Regions from separate parts of the Homo sapiens genome. Here region 2 is linked to region 1. The links come from fine-mapping of genetic effects on gene expression. Tissue or cell type: cerebellar hemisphere. Region 1 holds a variant in brackets; the other region holds the start of a gene. All regions are shown on one strand. Distances are from middle to middle.

The links. PIP is the estimated chance that this variant, and not a neighbour inherited with it, causes the effect.
Region 2: KLHL23 starts here. The variant in region 1 is fine-mapped to the expression of KLHL23 in cerebellar hemisphere (GTEx, PIP above 0.99).

Annotation. Positions count from the first base shown.
Region 1 is chr2:169,405,545-169,413,652 of GRCh38, reverse strand. No RefSeq gene overlaps it. Among named protein-coding and RNA genes, the nearest start is that of LRP2, 47 kb to the right of the region's middle. The variant G/A (reference allele first, on the strand shown) is at 4,110.
Region 2 is chr2:169,730,175-169,738,282 of GRCh38, reverse strand. KLHL23 (kelch like family member 23) reads right to left here and starts at 4,451. Exons shown (of 4, transcript NM_144711.6): 1 at 4,196-4,451; 2 at 2,056-3,270. The coding sequence starts at 3,268. The region is part of intron 3 of PHOSPHO2-KLHL23 (PHOSPHO2-KLHL23 readthrough); the gene reads right to left. RefSeq lists silencers at 3,761-3,940, 4,051-4,120, 4,141-4,580.

The DNA of each region.
Region 1 (8,108 bases):
TTTTCTTCTTTCCTCCTTCTGCTTTGGCCCTTGAAGAGTCAGAAAACACAGCTAGCAAGATAGCAAATAGAAGAGAAGGAGCAGAAATCTAGGCTGGGAATATAGCATTGTGTTCCATTCTTTGGTTACCTACGTACAAAGACCACAATTGAAAGGGGGTGAAATTTAACTGTGAAATCAGATCCAATGTTTTGGTAATTATTAATACCTGGGAATGAACACATTCATTTCCCAAATTGAGACTTTGTTTGCAACTTGATGTGACCATTTGGGCTTTTTATAATCTAGAAATGACCAGAAAAGTCTGGAACTTTCTGAATTTCATCCAGGATGAAAGGAAGAGGGAGCTGGGAAGCAGACCTTTTACTTACATTTGAACTTCCCTTCTTCCTCCAACCTAGGAAGGTCTTTTACCCTCCTTAAAGGGGTAACAGTCTGTCCTTAACTCCTTTTTTTTTTTTTTTTGAGACGGAGTCTCACTCTGTCACCCAGGCTGGAGTGCAGTGGCGCGCAATCTCGGCTCACTGCAACTTCCAACCTCCACCTCCTGGGTTCAAGCGATTCTCGTGCCTCAGTCTCCTGAGTAGCTGGTATTACAGGTGTGCACCACCATGCCCAGCTATTTTTTTTCTATTTTTGGTAGAGACGGGGTTTCACCACATTGGCCAGGCTGGTCTTGAACTCCTGACCTCAAGTGATCCACCTGCCTCGGCCTCCCAAAGTACTGGATTACAGGGATGGGTCACCGTGCCTGGCCTGCCCTTACTTTCTATATTGCACCATTGCTATTGCTAATTTAAAACTCTATGTTTAGTCCTTTAGTTAAATTATGTTGCAATTCAAAACAAAATCATCACGGTATTTTCTCAAGCACTTGCAACTCAATCCCTTGGCTTTGGCTTTCAGACTGTTGTGTCTTCTGTGAGCTGATAAAGCAACTCAGTTGTCTTCTTTGTTCTAGGCTAGGTAAGTAGAAAGCTTCAGGGAAACCAGGAATTACTAGGGGTTGTGACACCAAAACTGCGTCAGTTGAATATTTTAAAAATATTATTTTGTCTTATACCATTATTAGGCAGACCCATGACACTTATTTCCACTGGTCTCCCTTTGGTTAACAAGGAAGGGGGGTATGTGTGCCATTTGTAAGGTTGTCTCTGAGTTATACAAGTAGATGTAGAGATATCCGTTGATTCCATTGAAGCAATTGTGGCTAGAGAGGAATTAATGCTTCCTTCACTTAGTAGACTCATGAAATCTCAGTTGGTGAAACCAAGTAAAATAAAATGAAATTAAATAACAATCAAAGCCAAATGGCACTAGAGGAAATGCTAGGGGAAGATCTTTATTACTAATCAAGATAGCAATTCTAAATGCCACGTGAACTTGGGACAATATATGTAAGAATTATCATTATCTCAGTTAAGGTGCTGGGAGCTCTTTTTCTATCCAATTCCACAGATCCTACTCATTGGTAAAAAAAAAATGATGGAAGGTTAGGTGTAGATAGAGCAATGATTCAAATAAACAGCTTTGGGCTGTAGCTCCTAAAAGAACATGCAATATAATGGTTGAATCATCATTCTGAAACCAACTACGTGGACACTTAGACACATAATAGTGTTTATTACTATTACCGAACATGAAGTACATTTTAATGATTTGAGACTGAAACAATTGGATTTGGTCTTATTGGCCAACCTCCTTGAAAGATCTTTGGTGTTTGCACCATTCTTTCAGACTACTTACTTCGACAACCGTGTAGATCAATTGCCATTAGTTTCTTAATCGCAATGTGATATAAATATAGGTGTTGTAGGGAAAAATGTGTGCTTCGATGAAAAACTAGGCACTGTTTAGGTGACACCATTTCATGTTATCTGGTTCTGATTCTTTGGGGGCTATATTCAAGTTTGTAAATTGTAGATAACTAATGACAATACAAAATAATTCTTGTCTATAGACACACGAATTTTGTTCTGTACAGTAAAGGTTCTGCTGCCTACCCTCTCCACTGCAGAGGAAGCTCATTTTGCCTTCACTTGTGCATTAGTTTCAATATTTCTTTATTCCATATAAATTTGTGCTTTTTTTGACTTCTCCTTTGGGTATAGTCAAAAAAGGGTATAACATCTCTCCAATTTTTTCATTGAGTTAAATAAAATCTTTTTTTTTTTGCAACAGAGTTTCACTGTGTCACCCAGGCTGAAGTGCAGTGACGCCATCTCAGCTCACTGTAACCTCTGTCTTCTGGGCTCAAGTGATACTCCCACCTCAGCCTCCCCAGTAACTGGGACTACAGGTGTGCACCACCACATTTGGCTAATTTTTGTATTTTTTGGTAGAGATGGGTTTTCATCATGTTGCCCAGGCTGATCTTGAACTTCTGGGTTCAAGCAATCTGCTTACCTTGGCCTCCCAAAGTGCTGAGATTACAGGCATGAGCCACTGTGTCCAGCCTACAATCTTTAATGTATTTTCATTTTTATATCTGTATGGACGTATGATTTTACCTTTTTTGGGGAATTATCTTTTTACAGTGTTGGCAACCTAAAAAAAATACAATAGAGAAAACTATCCCTAAATATGTTGGGTTTACTCAGGAATAGAAGTAAGGATTATAATCCGGAATGCATGAAATGGCAAGGTAACAGTGCATTTGGTAAGGGAAGAGTAAAGGGAAAAGTTTATTAGGAAAAAATCAATTTACATAAGATGCTTAGAAACAAGAGTTTTTTGGGTCCAGAGGTTCAAAGCCAGAGTTGTCAGCTCGTTGGTGGAGGTACCACTACTGGGCAAGTGTTCTTCTGAGAACATCTTATCTGAGTTTTTGTAGCCCTAAAGAATGTCTAGTGATGAAACTTAGCAAAGCAGGAGATGCATGAAGGATGCAAAAGGGTTTTTAGAAAGTTCTTGGAAACATTTCTTATCTCAGACATGTAAGCATGAGCCCTGTCTCCTTTTGCCCTTCCTATCCCTATTTGTTTGGGGTTCACAGTGTATTGTCAAATAGTTGTGTCTGGCAGTTCATGTGTTGCTAACCAGTGACATAAAGCTGTGATTATTATAGCAGAGGTTTGGCATGGAGTTATGAGGCTTTAATCAAATTTATTGCTTCTTTCCCTTGAAGCTCAGTGGATTTGCTCTGATCCTCACCTAAGCTACAGTTCTTAGACAAAAAAGAATAATTAATCATAGCTAATATTTACTGACCAGTTATGTGCCAAGTACTGTAATAAGCACTTGACATATATTATCTCAATTGTCATATATGGGCAACATGAAAAAAAAAGTCAAGGAACATACAGGCTTGGGACAAGATAATCCCTATGGCTGCAAAACTACTGTGGGATCCCTCAGCGACTCCCTCAGCCCACCCCTCTGTCACTGAACCAGAGGACAACAGGAGCACAAAAGAACCAGAGTTGCAACATCAAATTACAACAGGCAATGCCACCTGTGCATACCTGGGCCCCAGTGCATCCAGAGTGAGTCCCTTTATAATGACATCAAGGAGAGATCATCTCCATTAGAGGCTTAGGAAAGTGTAAGGGCCAGTTTCTATATTTAACTGGAAGACCCCTGATGTTTCTTGGTTGCAAATTAAGAAGAATCCGAGTGGTTCTTTGGCATGAAAATCTCTAAACACACAATATTATAGCAGTAAGTCATGAACAAGCCCTGACATAAGGTGACATCCATGACCCTGTCAACATTGATGGGAACTTGTGTGGAAACCAACTTCTGTCCTCTTTGAAGTCTGAAGTTTTGAGTAGGTTCCAGCTGTTTTGCTAGGGCACTGACACTAATTAGTTCTGATCTCTACCCTTTAAGACTCTCTTAGCAATTTGGCTGTTGCACAAGTGCTGCCATGGGCATTTACTACCATTCCTCATGAATATGGTGAAGTATTTGGCTTCAGTTTCCTTTCTTCATCAGCTCTATTGAGGTATAATTAACAAATAAAAATAATATATATTCAAGATGTACAAGGTGATGTTTCAGTATACGCTTTTTTTTTTTTTTGAGATGGAGTTTTGTTCTTGTTGCCCAGGCTAGAGTACAATGGCGTGATCTCGGCTCACCACAACCTCCGCCTCCCGGGTTCAACC[G/A]ATTCTCCTGCCTCAGCCTTCCGAGCAGCTGGGATTACAGGCATGCGCCACCATGCCTGGCTAATTTTTTGTATTTTTAGTAGAGACGGGGTTTCTCCATGTTGGTCAGGTTGGTCTCAAACTCCTGACCTCAGGTGATCCGCCCGCCTCGGCCTCCCAAAGTGCTGGGATTACAGGCGTGAGCCACCACACCTGGACTCGGTATATGTTTATATTCTGAAATTATTTCCACAATGAAACTAATTAACATATCCATCACCTCACATAGTTTTGTCTGTGTATGTGTGTAGTAAGAATACTTAAGATCTGCTCTCTCAGCAAATTTCAAGTATACAATGCAGCATTGCTGACTATTGTCACCGTGTTACATGAGATCTCCAGGATGGACTCATCTGATAACTGAAGGTTTTTACCTTTGACCACTGGCTCCTCATTTCCCCACCATAGTTTTTGACACAGAAGAAAACAATGCCAAACATGTGAAGCATGGTTACTTGTTGAAGGATAACCGTACCCCATCCGTCTTGCCTTGCTGAATCACTTTGCAGCAAACTAAGTCCGCTTTTGATATTTGTTCAGTTCTCAGACAGGAAGGGAGAGAGAAATGTGGTGTGTGATCACATGTTAAAGTCTAATGAGAGCAAAGGTGTCACAAGAGTCTGGCACATTTCTCTGGACACTCTCTTGGTGATGGGGACAGAGTTACCCCCCCATCTAACCTTGATAATAGTTGCTTAAATAGTTGCTGCACAGATGCCTCATAGAAAACACAGTCACACTTTTTTTTTTTTTGAGTCAGGGTCTTACTGTGTCACTCAGGCTGGAGTGCAGTAGTGTGATAGCTCACTGCAACCTCTGCCTCCTGTGTTCAAGCGATTCTTGTGCCCTAGCCTTCCGAGTAGCTGGGTTTACAGGCATGTGCCACCATACCCAGCTAATTTTTTTGTATTTGTAGTAGAGATGGGGTTTCTCCATGTTGGCCAGGCTGGTCTTAAACTCCTGACCTCAAGTGATCTGCCCACCTTGGCCTCCCAAAGTGCTGGGATTACAGACGTGAACCACCATGACTTGCCCATACTTTATTTTTTAATCCAGGAGTTGAAGCCACTTTGCTAGACCCTGTGCTTACCTTGGCTATTGGTCCGAATTTTGCTAAATTGATTCATACATTTGTATAATTGGAACTATAGCTAAAGATAACTATGTTCACCAGCACATGAGAAGCACAGGGCATTTATTTTAAAGTCAGGGCTTTAAGTCTATAGCAAAGTGACCTGTAACAAAATGTATGGCATCATTCCCATTCCGTGAGATCCACAAAACTCCCTCTTAGGATATCATAGTTAATTTGTGCTTTCTAAATATCTTTTCCAAATGCCTATAAAAACTTGATTGTGGAGCTTTTTCCATTTCTCAGAACTTGGAGAATTAGGGTGAACTCATTAAAATTTCATGTGGATTATTGCCCTCTACTGGGATTTCATATCAATGTCCCTGAGTTTAAAATGGGCTCGGGGATACCCTCCCACACTGATTCCTTTATATCTATGGAGATTAAAAAGACTCCTGCTACTCACAGATGTTTTCCATCTAAATGACTGCTTTGTCTCTAAAGACAAGCCTAGATGCCTACTGTGGTTTTCTTCCCCCCCTTAATGGTGAATCCCAGTTATCCATCTGAATGAAATATGGTGTTTTCCAAAGTAATAAATAATTTGTCAATTCCTTAAATCATCATTCTGGGGTAATAGGCTTTGCTGTGAAGCATGCTGGAACCTCAGAACATTGGCTGGCATGAAACAGGAGGACACCGAGATTGAGTGGAGAGAGAAAGGGAAGTGTGTATGCGGGAAGGCTGTGCAACACGATGCCCTGGGCCTGAAGAGTGTAGCAATATGGGATTGCCAGGCAATTAGTAAATCCGGGTACATGCATGTGTCATACCGAACACTCCCGTAAGCTCCAATGTGCTCCATTTAGTAGGTGAGTCTCGAAGCAGAATACAGGAATGGATGCCAGTACAGCGAGCGGTTCCTGGCAACACCCCTGCAAGGGTAGAGAGATAGGGTCCAGAATCTGAGGGTAGATCAGGCAGGAATCAGACAGGGAATCAAGGTGGGAAATGTTTTAGAAAGAGCATGTGATTTGGAGCCAGATTAGTATTTTCTTTCCTAGCTGTCTGACTTTGGGGAGCTATTTAACCTCTGGCTCTCAGTTTCTGTAACTGTAAAATGAAATAATAATCACCACTTCACAGGTTGTTTTAAGGAATGGAAATAATGTATACAAAATACCCAGGACAGCAGTAGGCCCAAAATATGGCACCTATTTTTAGCTAACAGGGCATCAGTCCTAGTAAAGGACTAGAGCTCCAAACAGGTGAGCCAAAGCAGACGCTGTCTTAGTCAGGTAGGAAATGCTGCAATCTGGCCACCTGAAATTCCAAAGGCGGATGGAGCAAACCATCCACCTGGTCTATAGGTCAGAGGTCCTAAGGCTGCTGATAAGGAATAGCTCAGGGTGGGTCCATGCCTGGGAACATTCTGTCTTTGGATCAGAGAAGACAGCAAATGTCCGTGCTTTTTGTTGTTGAGACCACCTGTGGACTAGTAGAGTGAGCCTTGGTCTCTTCTCTAAAGTGACTAGCCTTTGGGCTGGAAGGACACTGGTTCTCAAGTGTATGTGTGTGTGTGAGATAATTTGATCGTTGTTGGGGAGACAATAGCGATAATGATAGTTATTTGTAGAATCCTTTCCCTAACCTATATTATTGCATGCTAATCTTGCAACGAGTGTAAGTAATATCATTCTTACTTAATGTATGAGGAAAATAAGATATAGGGTTGTCAAGTGACATGTCCATGTCACAGTTGGGGCTAGGATCTAGGTAGCATTCCTTTTGGACCAGAGCTTTGCCCACTGTATAGATTTTAAAATAAAATATATTTAATTCTTGATACTGGTAATAGGATATATTTTTCTCTGTGGTTTGTGGTTTTTAAAAACCATTTAGTAACAACTATACATGTGTAACTATTAATTGTTTCTCTGAATAGGCTACACATGGAGTAACCACGTGTGTGGAAAATTTCATTATGGAATTTATATTTCCAGTCCCAGGGAAACCTTGTCTGACAGTACATTTTTTGAGGCCGCCCATCAGCTCAGTAAAGAGAGCAGGGTGGCCCTAGATTTGTCAGTAGCCAGCTGTGTGGCTTTAAAAATCCAGGAGACTGGATCTTTCTAGTAGTTCCCTAAGTGACCTTTGAAACCTTCTTTCAGCTCTAAGTAATAATAATGCCATGCCAAGCACTGCGTTTTATGGACAATATCATTTGTATGTATCATCACCCTCCTTTGACAGAAGAGGACCCTGAGGTTCAACAAGATTAGGACTCTTGCCAAGGTCACGCCAGCACTAATGAAACCACAGTTTTCCAATGCAGGATTGGGTTCATCAAAGCCCTTGCTCTTTCCACTGTGCCAGATCACCAGTTTGTCTCTCTCTCATTTACTGGTGAGAGTCAGATAACTGTTAGGGTAATAGCTTCCAGAATAGGGGGTACCCACCTCAGGCATGTGCAAGATACTCCATTCAGGAGGAGAAGGGAATTGCCTCCATTTTGATTTATATGTATCTTATACTGAAAAATTTCTATTTGGGGACATATTTTACAATGTACATAATATGTAGTAAAATAGCATGTGTACGTGATTTATAAATAAGTTAATTTACACACATCATATATGGAGGTTTGTAGGGTATGTACTACATGTTTTTTTCTTTCCTGAAAGGCGAAGAATGTGGAGAGCTTTGAGTTTTCATCTAATTTTAATTTTTGATAAAAAAGTGATTGTGGCAGTAAATAGGCCATTAAAAGTGTATAATAGGCCAGGCTCAGTGCCTCATGCCCGTAATCCCAGCATTTTGGGAGGTCAAGGTGGGTGGATCACCTGAGCCCAGGAGTTTGAGACCAGCCTCGGCAACACAGTGAACCC
Region 2 (8,108 bases), 320 kb before region 1:
TTTTAAAAATTAAAAATAAAATTTTAAAAATTGTTTAAAAAAAGTTCTGTATGAGTCCACCCACCAAAACAAGCAGTAGTCAAAACTGCACATAACTGGCAGTGTTACCTCTCCCTGGGATGACTAGATATAAACAAGAATCAAAGCTTTGAGTTCAAAGTATAAAACTGGAATTTCAGACCCAGTTAGCAGGTGAGGGAGGACTTTGAGGTATGAGGGTCTCCTACTCCACTCAAGGTTAACGCAAGCATGCATATGGCTTTTGTTTCACAGTAGATACACCATCGCAGCATATCTTTTTTCAACAAGCACTGTTCTAAATATAAATTTTTAAAATTTCAGTAAAGTAATAAGCTTTCATTCTCAAAGAAATATACTCTGAACCCACCCTTGTAATCCCAGCACTTTGGGAGGCCAAGGTGGGGGGATCACTTGAGGTCAGGAGTTCAAGACCAGCCTGGCCAACATGGTGAAACCCCGTCTCTACTAAAAATACAAAAATTACCTAGGTGTGGTGGCACATGCCTGTAATCCCAGCTACTCAGGAGGCTGAGGCAGGAGAACTGCTTGAACCCGGGAGGCAGAGGTTGCAGTGAGCCAAGATCACGCCACTGCATTCCAGCCTGGGAGACAGAGTGAGACTCCATCTCAAAAAAAAAAAAAGAAAAAGAAAAAGAAATATACTCTGAACCACAAAACCATTGAAACTGTTATATCATCCTTAAAAAACAGAATCAGAAATGTATGCTAGTTTACAATAGCTCCTTAAATATATGGACTTTTCTTATTTCTTTTGCAGAAGAGGGGTCAGGACATTCAGAGCCCTCCTGGAATCGGCAAGTAGTGGTGAGACTCAGGCAAAGACAAAAACCAGGGGAGCAACAGCACCGGGCTTTCTGCTACCTTCTCCCACCCTGGTGTGACAGTGGTCACAACTTCACATGAAATCAATTTCTGCTCTATAAGAGCTGACATGTCCTTCAATACCGACATTCAGGACAATCATGCGTAACATTTATAGCATGCTTACTCTGTGTCAGACACTGTTCTAGGCACTTCACAAGCATAGATTAATTTAATCCTCTCAATGATCCGAGACTAGGTAATATTGTCATCCCCATTATACAGATGACAAAACGGGGGCACAGGGTGATTAAACAATTTGCCAGAGCTCATCAGCAAGTAAGAGGAAAGCAGGGATCTGGATGCAGGCAGTTTAGCTTCAGAGGCAGCGTGCCTGATCCCAAGACTGTTCTGCCTCTCAGCTTCCTGCCTGTCATCCAAGGATCATACCAGGTCAGATTTCCAGACCAGGTCAAATTCCCACACTCTCACTAGCATTAAAAAAGAAACAGAAAAGCCTGGGAAGAAACATTTGGGACAAAATGATACAAATTTGGTAACGACCTACCAGTTGTTTTTGTACAACTCCTCAGCACCAATGAATAAATACAATGAAATAAGATTCCCGTTTAACTTTTTTTCCAGTGGGAGAGAAGGAGAGCAAGGCAAACAAATCGCCAAACACAGCAGAAAATAGTGTTTATCAGACAGATACCGAGACCCAGGGGTGTGCCGGGTTCTGTGGGCCACATGAGGGAGAGTATGGTGTCTGCCCCTCTCAGAGAGGACTGAATTGCAAAAGCAGACGTTGTCTCTAGTTCCTGGAAGAATGTACTTTGTTACATCCTGTAGGGACCAAACCTTCCAAGGTTTTAATGAAGGACCTCTTGAGAGCTGATCAGCGTATTTTGAGAGGAAAAAGTTGAATAGCAGAATTTTAAAGGGTTCAATTTTAAGAACATGAAAAAATGAAAAACTGTCCAGATTTGTCTCTTCATCTAGCCCTTGACTTGAATATAAATTCTCATAACTCTCAGACAAGTTGGGAACTATGCTATACTGTTTTTATCTGGAACATTCTGTGTAGCATTATTTGTATAATTAACTATAGTTCCTAGATAGCATCCCAAAGTGATAAATTCAAGAGAAGTGAGACTGCTGGCCTAGCTCCAGACATCTAAAAAATACAAAATAAACATAATCTCCACTTACCTTTAATCATGTTTGCAATAGGAATCCATTTCTCTTTTAAAGGATCATAGAACTCAGCCTCTTCTGCTGGAGCCCCTTTTCTGTAACCACCTAAAGCATAGACACAGCCACCCAAGGTGACTGCACAGTGGTAATACCTGGCATTGAGCATTGGCAAACCTTCTGTCCATTCATCACTTTCACTGTTATAGATCCACACTGTGTCAAGAGCTTCTATGTTATCCGTCCTGTAGCCCCCAGTTACATAAATGTTGGGTCCTAAACATGTAACACCATAGCTCTCCCTGGTATAATCTGGTATTTCTGCTCCCTGAATCCAAACATTTGTCAAAGGATCCCATATGTGAACCTCTGATAAAGGATGCCAGTAATAGCCTCCAATTATATACATTGTGGCTGTGGACCTCTGGGAAATCTCTTTATGCATGGGATTCAAGGCATTGTATATTAGGGAGCGGATCTTATTTTCGGTGAGCAGGCAGCTTCTTTGAAGGCCTAAGGCTGTTTTTAAGTACACTGGATCTATATCAATGTTGATATAGCTCAGTAGATTATAGAGGCATTCAATTCGATTTTCTACATCATGAGCAGTCCACTTAATAACTGGCTCTATGATAGCTTCTTCTTTCCAAACACTGAGATTCTTTCTGGACAAGATAAAGAGAAACTTTTCAAGGCTGATTTCCAGAAATTCTTCTTGTTGCCACACTTCCTTAAACTTTGAACATAGAATTCTTCGAGATTCCTTCTCTAGTTCTGGACACACATGAAATTCTGCAAAGGAGTGCATTCCAATACAATTATCAATATCCAAGTGCCTTACCAAAAACCGCTCACAAGCCTTCTTTACTGAAAGGAACTGTAGCAGATCCGCTGCCTCAAGCAGGCTTTGAACATTTCTTTTAGTTATTTCAATTTGGGAAGTGTATGCATAATTTACAAGGCCTTCCAGAATATCATGGTGGATGCCAGAGAGTTTTATTTTATTTTTAAATTTTTCTTTCATGTCAGCTGTGAACATTGCCTTAAAATAATTGCTGCAAGCAGCTAAAACGGCTCGGTGACAATGGAAAATTATGCCTGAAGGACACTGAAGAGTAATATCAGTAAATAATCCATCCAAGTAAAATGTTCTGAATGCATCCAGAAAATCCACTGGATGTGTTGAATCCTTGAAAAGATAAATATAATCTTCTTGTCCTTTTAGAGCCATGGCTGCAATAAATATGAAATAACAAATGTGTTTTCAATGTTGCACATTCTCTCAAATAATCAACGCTAAATAACTTGACTATCATCGGATATACTCCAAAACTGGACTAAGTTCAGCATCTAAATAATAAATGCAAAATGTGGATGGACTGTTTGATCATTTATATGGTGGTCAATTTAAATTCAGGGTAGCTCGGAGCTTGAAATGAGGCTCCTGGATTTTTCAGTAGTCCTTTTGAGAGTACTGATTTGCTATTCCATTCACCGCAATCTACCCTGGCCTGGCGTTCGGAGATGAGATCCCACACTAGGCAAGGCAAGTGTCCGAGGGTCACCCCACTCGAGGCCGGACCTCAGCTGTCTCGGCTCGGCCCCAATTCAACCTTTTCCCCAAGCTCGTCTCCCTTTCAAATCACATCGAAATGCCAAGAAAGGGATGATGGAAATATAAATGGACAAGAAGAGGTCTCGGAAAAGGGAAATCCCGAGCCCTTTCGCTTAAGGAAGGAGAGAAAGGAAGGCAGCTCGGCGCAGCCCTTGCAGCCCTCGCCCCCTCCCCCGCGCCCGCCGCAGGGGTTTCCGCGCGCCCCGCGCCTGGGCCCCGGCCCACGTTCCCGCCCGGAGACCGCCCCGCCCCGGGGCCAGGAGCGGGGCTGGACTCGAGGGCGCCGCGTGCCGCCCGCGGGCCCGGTGCCCGCGTCCCTCTGCCCGGCGCTCCGCGCAGGTGTGGGAAGGACGCCGCAGGCAGCCCCAGCGCAACGCGTTCGGCCCGGCCCGGCGCCCGCGCGGCCATTGTCTGCGCTCCTCTCCCGCGCGGCCTCGCTGCCCGCGCCCGGCCCCGCTGCCCGCGCCCGGCCCCGCTCCCCGCGCCCGGCCCCGCTCGCTCCCAGCAGGCCGGCCTCGGGCTGCGGGTCCACACCGCACCTACCTCCCGCCGGGGCTCGGGACGCGGCGCTGGCCCGCGGGCTAGTAGCGAGCGGGAGCGGGGACGCCTCCGGCCCCTCTGACCATCTTTGGAAGAGGCGCTCGGAAGCCGCCAGCTAGTGCCGCTCCACCCCACAAGCAGCTCCTATTTTGGTGTCCCGGCGGCTCCCCCGCCTCCACCCGAACAGCCCCCCGCACGGTCTGGGCGCGAGGCCACTCGCGGGAACTCCCCCGTCGCCGGGCCGTGCGGCGAGCGGGGCGGGGCGTGCAGGCGTGAGCACGGCTCGGCCCCTCCCCAGCGGCGCCCCCCACAGCAGGTGGGACTGCTTCCCCAGGAGACAGCGCGCGCCGCCGCCTTCCCCTTCCTTGGCTCGCTCTCTGTCCCGCGCGCTCTCTCACACCCGGTCGAGCGTCTTCTCTTAGATAAACTCTGAGTCCTGAATTATTAATAACACCATATATGAGTGTGTGTGTGTGTGTGTGTGTGTGCGCGCGCGCGCGTGTGCATGTGTGTACACTCCCCTCCCTCAGTAGGCTTCGCCAGCCCAGACTCAATCGTGAGGACAGAGAAGGGGGAAAGAGTGGAGAGAATGGGGCACAACTAAAGGTCAGGGATTGGAGGCGCCGTTGAAATGCCAGAAGTAGCCGGCCTTTCCCACAAACGCCATCCCACCCCCAGCAAAGCACTCAGGAGGGCGCCTTGGTGCTGGTGAGCACATCAGGGGTTAAGCTGAAGCTTTGAGAGAAACTTTGGGCAGCCGGGGCCAAGGCGAAGTCCAGGCGAAGTCCAGTCGTGCTAAGATTCAGGTTATTGTATTTAGAGCATAGCAGCTGGAAGGAGCAGCCTTTCTGGTGACGGCCACTCTAGTCACAGATGTCTATGTGGTACACAAAGTTCATTTTCTTGTTCCAACTAAAGCCAGTATCAAATATTTTTGTATATCATTCATTCATTCATTCGCAAGATTTTATTAAGTGCTTCTAGTGCCTGATAGGGATAGACACTAGTAGTGATAAGAGTGTTGACAGATGGTCCCTAGCTCACAGGGACCTTCACCACCACCAGAGGACCATGTGTTTCCCAGAGTATGGTCTCAGAAACGCAATATACATGAATGGCCAGATAGTATGTGACAACAGAACTCTGAACCACATAAGAAGCCCAGGAAGCCAGACCACAACCTTGGTAGCAGCTGAACCAGAACAGTCAGGAAGTAGTCAACGACTGGCAATTTCCCTATTTTTTTTCTTTTTTGAGACAGGGTCTTGCTATGTTGCCCAGCCTGGAATGTAGTCGCACGATCTTAGCTCACTGCAGCCTCGATCTCCTGGTCTCAAGAGATCCTCTGCCTCAACCTCCCAAGTACCTACGACTACAGATGTGCAATTTTTGAAAAATTTTAAATATTTTTTCATGACAGGGTCTCACTATGTTGCCCAGGCTGGTCTCAAACTCCTGGACTCAAGCGATCTTCCTGCCTGGGACTTCCAAAGTGCAACTTCCCTATTTTTACCCCTAGTTCCACCTCTGCACCAACCAGAGAAAGCCAAATATGTTCCGCAAACCCATCACATAAAATACCCCCGCTTCTAGTAGCCCACCTGCAGCTTTCCCATGCCAACAACTTCCAATCAGAGCATACCGGGGGCTTTTCTTCACTTCTATAAAGCTTTCCCACTCGTCTGCCCCACCTTTGAGCCTCTGACAAAGTGATGGTGAGTGGGACTCCCTTCTACAGCAAACTCTGAATAAATAGCATCTGTTGGTTCTCCTGTGGGTGGGTTTTAGTTTAATTCCACAAGTCAGATCATCTTAATTGAATTATGTAAGATGCTGGTTATGCAGCCCCCACAACTACCACACCCCACGCACAGACGTCTGCGGGGTGGAGACCTAGGGATCTGCATTCTAATCAAGGGCAGCAGGTGATTCTTATGGACAAATAAGAGAATGTGTTGGACCCAAAAGGAAGAAGGATGAAAGTTTAACATCCCAACATCTGGTAAACAGTATAGTTAGAAAAGGAAAGCATATGAGATTTAGTTTCGGGCTTAAGGCTCATCTCTGCCACTTATCCAACATATAGCCTCTCACAAATTACTAAACTTCTCTGATCCTTCGTCTTCAGATCTGTAAAACACAGACAACATGGATACTTTCTCAACCTAACCTAAGGTTATTGGAAAGACAAATTAATAATGAAGCACTTAGGACTTGATATATAAATGTTAGCTACTATAATGAAAGAATATTTACACTTAATTCTGCATCACAACCTTAATTTGGAAATTAGCATCTTCTTAACATTTCTTCAGAAATTATGAACTTCATAGTTAATAGTAATTATAGCTTGCCCTTCATAACTGATAGTGATGCTGTTGTCACTGTTGCCATTCAAGGACACAATTGTGACTGATTGAAGGAGACTTCTCTCCATTTTTGTCACTGAAGTGTAGAGATGGCTGTTTTTGCAGCTATAATTACTGTTTGCCAAGTTTGATGTATAAAAAAATATAGGCTCCATCTAACTTGGAGTAAGGGCTTCTGGAATCATAACTACATGTAATAATAAATGATTCATGAATAATAGAATTCACTATATTCTCATTTATGCAGTTATTTCAGATGGCTGCATGAACCAACTAAAACTCTTGCTTTCATTTCGTGATGTTCCCTGGTTGTGAATTACTACTTAAAAGTGTATATCAGTGTATATTACATATTAGACTATTATACTGCTTCACTTTGCTAAGAGAAGAGCAGGTCCTGAAGGGTATTGCCTGGCATAGTTCCTCTTTACCATGTGCTTATCAAAGAGACCATTGCAAATGCTGATAGATTTGATGCATTCAGAAACATATAATTAGCATTCATAAATCAAATAAATTAATGATACCGTTCAAGAAAACAGATGTGCCATCTGTGGTTCCAAGTCTTAAAGAAATAAAGTGCTGCCATGGAAATGAGACATAAATGATTTGGCAGATACTAAGCTTGGCATGGAGTTAGATGACTTATTGACATCACACTTCAGCTTTCAAAGGACTCCGAGTTCTAAAAATAATGATTTTATTTATAATTTTTACCTTATTAGTACATCTTTCCACTAAGTACAGCCATGCCATTAAATGTTTGATATGCTGTGATATCATTAACAATGTGTGTAGATGATGGGCATAGATAGAACATTTTGTATACTTCATTTACATACTGGATTAAACAAGTTGCTGCCAAGTTAAAAAAAAAAAAAAAAGGCCAGGCCCATTGGCTCACGCCTGTAATCCCAGCACTTTGGGAGACCGAGGCAGGCAGATCATGAGGTCAGGAGTTTAAGACCATCCTGACCAACATGGTGAAACCCCATCTCTACTAAAAATACAAAAATTAGCCAGGTGTGGTGGTATACGCCTATAATCCCAGCCACTCAGGAGGCTGAGGCAGGAGAATCTCTTGAACCTGGGAGGCGGAGGTTACAGTGAGCCAAGATTGCGCCATAGCACTCCAGCCTGGGCGACAGAGTGAGACTCCGTCTCAAAATAAAAAACAATAGTAGGTAAAATGTATAAGGCTACCACATACAGCTTTGCAAATTGTGCACTGCACAATTCCAGCTCATGCAACTTAAGTAGAGTACAGTGTAAACACTGCTCTCAGGAGTTGTATAGTACACAACCAACGCAGGTATCTGTGGCTGCCCTGCAGCCGATGTGTCTTGGTAAAACCTTTTTTGGTATGTTTCCTGTAAAATAAGAAAGTGAACATTCTAATAACTAGGTAAAAATGCTTTTGCAAGTCACAGGTTTCCAATTCCTGGTTTCCAGCAAAAGTGAAAGAGGATTTTTGGCAAATAATTTGGAGGGAATGACAAAATGAATGGCATTACTATAAAAAAGGTTTTTTGTTTGTTTTTTTTTTT